2 linked regions of the Homo sapiens genome follow. The protein of the gene in region 1 purifies or fractionates together with the protein of each later gene. This does not show direct contact. Each region holds a gene or a part of one and is shown in the gene's direction. Other genes may lie near its edges.

Region 1 (3,653 bases):
GGCAGTCTGCAGAAGAGCAATTAATCTAGGGCTGACAGGCAGCCCCTTCTGTGTAGCCATCCTCAGCACATGGCAGTTGAGACAGTAGGAAGAAGGGAGAGGAATAAAAGGGAATGTGTCTAAAGTTTCTCCATTAAGTATGGTGCATGCAGTAAGTTTTTAGAATGTATCCTTTAATAAATCAAGAAAATTATCTAATCTTCGTTTGCTAAGATTGACCATAAATAAGTATTGAACTTCAAAATCCTGTGCTTTTTTTCTCCCTTTGTCCATTAATTTCATAAATTGTGGCCTGGCATGGTGGATCACAGCACCTTGGGAGGCCAAGGTGGTTGGATCGCTTGAGGCCAGGAGTTCAAGACCAGCCTGGCCAACATGGTGAAACCTCATTTCTACTAAAAATAAAAAAATCAGCCAGGCGTGGTGAAGCATGTCTGTAATCCCAGCTACTGGGGAGACTGAGACATGAGAATCGCTTGAACCTGGGAGGTGGAGGTTGCAATAAGCTGAGATCGTGCCACTGCACTCCATCCTGGGCAACAGAGTGAGACTCCATATCAAAAAAATAAATAAAAATTTTGTAAATTGCATTAAATGATATCCTTGGCATTCTTGAGCTATACCCCACTTGATCATGGTATGTATGTATATGTTTATGACTTCTTACTTTGAAAATATCTCAAATTTACAGAAAGGTTGCAAGAAAAAGTATAATGAATTCCCATATATCCTCTACTCAGAATTACTTGTTTTAAGTATTTTGCCACATTTGCTCTATCACTCTATATCTTTTTTTTTTTTTTTTTTTTTTTTTGAGACGGAATCACTCTGTCACCCAGGCTGGAGTGCAATGGCGTGATCTTGGCTCACTGCAACCTCCGCCTCCTGTGTTCAAGCAATTCTCCTGCCTCAGCCTTCCAAGTAGCTGGGATTACACGCGCCTGCCAGTACGCCTGGCTAATTTTTGTATTTTTATTAGAAACGAGGTTTCACCATGTTGGTCAGGTTGGTCTCAAACTCCTGACCTCAGGTGATCCACCTGCCTCAGCTTCCCAAAGTGCTGGAATTACAGGCGTGAGCTACCGCGCCTGGCCCACCCTATAGCTCTATATCTTTACATAGACACACACACACACACACACACACACACACACACACACACACGTTTTTTTTAATCGTTTGAGTTGGTGGCAGCCATGACTTTTCTTTTTGAGTCAGAGTTTCACTCTTGTTGCCCAGGCTGGAGTGCAATGGTGCAATCTCGGCCCACTGCAACCTCTTCCTCCTGCATTCAAGCGATTCTCCTGCCTCAGTCTCCCAAGTAGCTGGGATTACAGGCATGCGTCACCACACCCAGCTAATTTTGTATTTTTAGTAGAGACAGGATTTTTCCATGTTGATCAGGCTGGTTTCAAACTCCCGACCTCAGGTGATCCGCCCATCTCGGCCTCCCAAAGTGCTGGGATTACAGGCATGAGCCACCACATCCAGCCTGACATGACCTTTTAAGTCTGGCAGCATGTACGTCTTAAGAACAAAGGTGTTCTCTTCCATAACCACAATATACTTATCAATATCAGGAAATTAAACAATTATATAGTACTTTTATTCTATATAAAGCCCATATTCAGATGTTATCACTCTTCTCAATAATGTCCTTTATAATGGTTTTCCCCAATCCAGGATCCAGTCCAAGATCATGTATTGCATTGAGCTCCTTGTCTCCTTTAATCTGAAACAGTTATTCTATCTTTGTCTTTTATGACCTTGTCATTTTTTTTTTTCCTGAACCTATGGATTATATTGAAAGCATGTTTTAAAGTTAGTTGTTTTATAGAATGTTTCTCAGTTTGGATTTTTCTGATGCTTACTCATGAGTTTTTGGCAGAAATGTTATTTAAGTGATTTATGTATATTTTTAAAACCTTGTTAGATTTTATTAGCCATTGTATCATCTAGGATATCTACACCTGTATTTATCAGTGAGGTAGTCCAATATTTTTATTTTCAGTATTTATCTGGCATTGGAATCAAGGTAGCCTCATTACATGAATTGGGCAGCCTTTGTTATTCTCTCTTTATTGGAGAAACTTGTATAAGAATTATCTGTACCTCGAAAAACTTGGTAGGACTCACCTTTAAAAGCATCTGGAGGCTGGGCGCAGTGGGCTGAGGCAGTTGGATCACTTGAACCCAGGAATTCGAGACGATCCTGGGCAACATGGCGAAACTCTGTCTCTACAAAAAATACAAAAATTAGCTGGGCGTGGTGGCAGGTGCCTATAGTTCTAACTACTCAGGAGGCTGAGGCAGGAGGATTACCTGAGTCTGGGAGGTTGAGACTGTGGTAAGCCATGATCATGCCACTGCACTCCAGCCTCAGTGACAGAGTGACACCCTGTCTCAAAAAATAATAAAATAAAAGCATCTGGAGCTGGTTTTTGATTACCATTTCATCTCTTCTGCCAATTTTAGCATTTTATATTTTCTAGAAATATACTCATTTTGTGAAGATCCTCATATATGATGATTCAGTCCAGCATCCTAGAAATGCTTTATAAAAGGGATATGCCTTTGGAAGGTGTTTGTTCAGAGTGCTTTGGTGGCCAATTAAAAATATTCCTTTCTATCCAAATATGTTCCCTTCCTGAGTTTAGATAGCAAGAGTTCAATACCTGAATTTATTTGGTTTGGATATTGGATGTCAAGAGAGTTCAGGATAATTTCATCTGAAAATTTATAAATTTATTCATATCTGTTCAGTTCTTGATTTTTTTTCCTTTTTTTTTTGTTTGTTTGTTTGTTTGTTTTTGTTTGTGGAGATAGTCTCACTCTGTCTTCCAGGCTGGAGTTCAGTGGTGCGATCTTGGCTCACCGCAACCTCTGCTTTCCAGGCTCAGGGGATTCTTGTGCCTCAGCTTCCTGAGTAGCAAGGATTACAGGCCCGTGCCACCACACCCGGCTAATTTTTGTATTTTAGTAGAGACGGGGTTTCACCATGTTTGCCAGACTGGTCTCGAACTCCGTACCTCAGGTGATCCACTCGCTTCAGCCTCCGAAAGTGCTGGGATTACAGGTGTGAGCCACCATGATGGCCCAGTTCTTGAATTTTGATGACTACAGTTCAAATTGATTGTATCAAGAACCTTATAACTACTCATACCACTGACAGTGATTTCTTCTCTAGGCATTTACGGTAGGGAAACAATTTGGGGCCAGGTGTGGTGGCTCACGCCTGTAATCCCAGCACTTTGGGAGGCCGAGGCGGGTGAATCACGAGGTCAGGAGTTTGGGACCAGCCTGGCCAACATGATGAAACCCCATCTCTACTAAAAATACAAAAAATTAGCTGGGTGTGGTGGCAGGCACCTGTAATCCCAGCTACTCGGGAGGCTGAGGAAGGACAATCGCTTGAACCCAGGAGGTGGAAGTTGCAGTGAGCCAAGATCACGCCACTGCACTCCAGCCCGGAGGACAGTGCGAGACTCCCTCTCAAAAAAAAAAAAAAAAAAAAAAGAGTTTGGGTTCCAAGCTGAGTTCGTGGGGACAGGGACTTTATTTTGTTCACAGCAGTATCCCCATTACCTAGAACAGTACTTATCGTATAGCCAATGTTAGGTTAATATTTGTTGAATGAATGCATGAACAAATAA
Region 2 (3,653 bases), on another chromosome or scaffold:
ATAGGGGCATTTAGGCTGGCAGTGAGAGAGGAGAGCGAGGTGGGGACCATTTGTGAAGGTTACTGTATGTCATGTGGAGAGCTTTGGAATTTATCCCATCATCGGCATGGTTCTGCACCCCGTCGTGTGAAGAAATCATCCGGAGAACTTGTTCTGAGTCCAGAAGTTACCTACAGGCTGCCTTGAGGCAGTGGTCCTCACACGGCATCCTCCTGGCTCCCTTCCAACTGCAGCTGCCGTGAACATGGGACAGTCCCCGCATGTGGACAGTGCCCTGCCTCAGGTGCTCGTGGGGTGCTCTGCCGTGGGAGCACACTCAGCTCGTGCATGTGTTGGGGCATCAGTGCCCTGAGGGCAGCCTTCAACAAGCAGTGGATAAATGTCCCAGTCTTGGAGAGACATTTGCGACATGCATTTAAGCAGAAGACTCCCATGATCTGATTTCAGTTAAAAAAAAAAAAACTCACTGCTGCATAGAAAATGAAGTGTGAGTGCAGGGATTTGGAGGAGACAACGCAGAGTGGAAGCAGAGAGACCAATTAGGAGGCGGCAGTGGTGTCTCTGGTAGAGACCCTGGTGGCCTGGGCAAGGAAGGCAGCAGCACATTCCAGGTAAAGAGGTCAGACCCAGGAAGTGTTCTGGAGAGAGAGGCGAGGGACAGCTGGCGGATTGGATGGGCAAGTGAGAAAGAGAGGGATCAAGGGGGCCACGAGGTTTTTGGCCACTGCTTCAATGATGGAGCCATTTTTAAGATAGGTGAAGACTAGGGTTGGGGAAAGTGAGATCTTGGAGTGCCGCAGAGGGCCCCCGTGGGAAGGAGCACCAGTTGGCCACAGCAGTGACCAGCTCAAAAAAACTGGGTTTTTCCTTTTTCCTGCCCTATCTTGCTTTCCCCATTTCCTCTTGGAATCACCTGCCAAATACTCGACTTGCACCCGAGTCCTTGTCTCAGCCTCTGCTTTTACGGTCTCCCAATTATGATGCCCACGGAGGCCAGGAAAGCTGTTTTATAAGCACTCCAGGCTTTTCGACGCAGATGGTCTCAGGAACTGGACTTTAAAGAACACTGCTATAGGCTGTGAAAAAACATGAAGGATTTCACACAGGGGAATGACTGGACAGATTTGCTCTGGTAGGAAATGAACTCTGGTGGCAATGTGAAGTCCAAGTTAAAGTAGCAAGAGACAGGAAGCAGGGAGACCCATTAGTAGGCTATTACGAATGTCCCGACAGGAGGTAATGATGACGAAGGCAGCGATTGAGGCCGTCTCTTTGTGAAAGTCCTTTGATTTATAGAGTATGTAGCGGTTCCCACAGAAATGAGACCAAGCCTAGTTTCACACCCCCAGCACTGTGGTTTTCAAAAGCTTGCATTTCTAGCATTTCACATTTTCTTTTCTTTTTTTGGTATCTTCGACTTCCAAAATTTCATACATCAGTCTGATGCTATGCATCTTCACTTTGTTAAATCTTATGGTTTCAGGATCTTGACATTGGTGCCAAGAACGTGAAGCTTTACGTCAACAGAAACCTCATCTTCAATGGCAAGTTAGACAAAGGAGATAGGGAGGCCCCAGCTGACCACAGCATCCTGGTTGACCAGAAGAACGAGAAGAGCGAGCAACTAGAGGAGGCCATGAACGCTCACTCGGAAGAAAGCAAAGGCACCCATGAGATGGCTGGTGCCAGCGGGGACAAGGAGCTTGGTCTCGGTTGCTCACCGCCAGCTGAAACATTAGCGGATGCAAAGCTTTCTTCACAAGGAAATGTGTCTGGCAAAAGAAAGAATTCTACTAATTGCAGGAAAGACAGTTTGTCCCAGTTAGAGGAATATTTGAGACTGTCGGCAGTCCCCACTTCGATGGGTGACATGCCCAGTGCTCCTGCCACTTCCCCACCTGTGAAGTGCCCTCCTGTCCATGAGGAGCCCTCTCTCATCCAACAACTGGAAAACCTCATGGGCAGAAAAATCTGTGAGCCACCCGGGAAAACCCCATCCTGGTTACAACCTTCTCCCACCGGCAAGGACAGGAAGCAGGGAGGCAGGAAGCCAAAACCCCTCTGGCTTAGTCCCGAGAAGCCCCTGGCCTGGAAGGGCAGGCTCCCATCAGACGATGTCATCGGTGAGGGTCCTGGAGAGACCGAGGCCAGGGATAAAGGCCTACGGCATGAGCCAGGGTGGGGGACCAGCCGGAGTGTCAACACCAAGGAGAGACCCCAGAGGGCAACCACCAAAGTCCACAGTGATGACTCAGACATCTTTAACCAGCCCCCCAACAGAGAGCGCCCTGCTAGTGGGAGGAGGGGCTCAAGGAAGGATGCTGGCAGCAGTAGTCATGGGGACGACCAGCCAGCCAGCAGAGGTAAGCTCCAAAGAGCAGCCCGACTTGGGCATCATCATCCCAGCCCCTCTAATTGGCATGAAGCCAGTTAGCTCCTGGACCTCAGTTTCCTTATCTGCACAACAAGATGGTTGTTCTCAACTAAGGGTCACAAAATCACTGTCTCAGGGGCCAAAGAGATGCATACATGAGTGAAATGGGCAAGACACATTTTGCATGGTAAATTCATAGATGTATTTGTCATTGCCACCAAGGTATGTCCCTTTGCCCATTTTTCTTGCAACACATGGCTTTTCCAAGCCATTTTCCAAAAGACTTTGTTCTCCTGCCTTTCATAGAGACATCGGTCTCTAGTCACTTCACTTTATCCTTAACTGTACTGTTAGAAAAATAGCTGGGTACAGTGGCCAGGCCTGTAATCCCAGCACTTTGGGAGGCTTAGGTAGGAGGATCGCTTGAGCCAAGGAGGTCGAGGCTACGGTGAGCCATGATTGCGCCACTGCACTCCAGCCTGGGTGACACAGCGAGACTCTGTCTCAAAGAAAAAAAAGAAAAAATAATAACACAAGTGTGATGATGCATAGCAATTGACACTTGCCTGAGTGTTGGAAGTGGCACAGGGAATAGTGAGGACTTTGGCAATTTGGAGACCATAAGCCCACCCACAGGGCGGCTGCCACTCCACTCAGGTTTCTAATAAGCATTTAGGAGTGCAAGGCCAGGCCGGGCGCAATGGCTCACACCTGTAATCCCAGCACTTTGGGAGGCCGAGGCGGGCAGATAACCTGAGGCCAGGAGTTCGAGACCAGCCTGGCCAACATGGTAAAACCCTGACTCTACTAAAAATACAAAAATTAGCCAGGCATGTGGTGCGTTCCTGTAATCCCAGCTACTTGGGAGGCTGAGGCAGGAGGATCACTTGAACCTAGGAGGTGGAGGCTACAGTGATCCGAAATTGTGCCACTGCACTCCAGCCTGGGCAAGAGAGTGAGACTCCGTCTCAAAAAAAAATAATGAATGCAAGGCCACTGTACCAGACCTCCTCTTTACTTTTTTCAAGAGAAACCAGAAATGTTTCTTATTTTTTGACTTTGGCAACTGATTGAGATTATTTTTAAACTACTGTATATGTCAAAAAAAAAAAAAAAAGGCACATCTGCTGGCAGGACTCACCCTGAGAGCTTTGTGAACTTTGCAGTAGATGATTAGATGGTCTTCAAGGGCATTCCTGATTATGAAAGGAGAGCCCATCAAGGCAGGGAGTCTCAATATTTGCACTCAGACTTGGCTCCTGGAGAGTACGGATAGCAG

The links.
Region 2: the proteins of RBM10 (region 1) and KATNIP purify together in Homo sapiens (tandem affinity purification; one large-scale study listed by IntAct). This does not show direct contact.

Annotation. Positions count from the first base shown.
Region 1 is NC_000023.11:47,151,653-47,155,305, forward strand, and holds part of RBM10 (RNA-binding protein 10), read left to right. Parts: intron 1-3,653. UniProt on the Homo sapiens protein: Binds to ssRNA containing the consensus sequence 5'-AGGUAA-3'. May be involved in post-transcriptional processing, most probably in mRNA splicing. Binds to RNA homopolymers, with a preference for poly(G) and poly(U) and little for poly(A).
Region 2 is NC_000016.10:27,738,558-27,742,210, forward strand, and holds part of KATNIP (katanin-interacting protein), read left to right. Parts: intron 1-1,483; coding exon 1,484-2,363; intron 2,364-3,653. UniProt on the Homo sapiens protein: May influence the stability of microtubules (MT), possibly through interaction with the MT-severing katanin complex.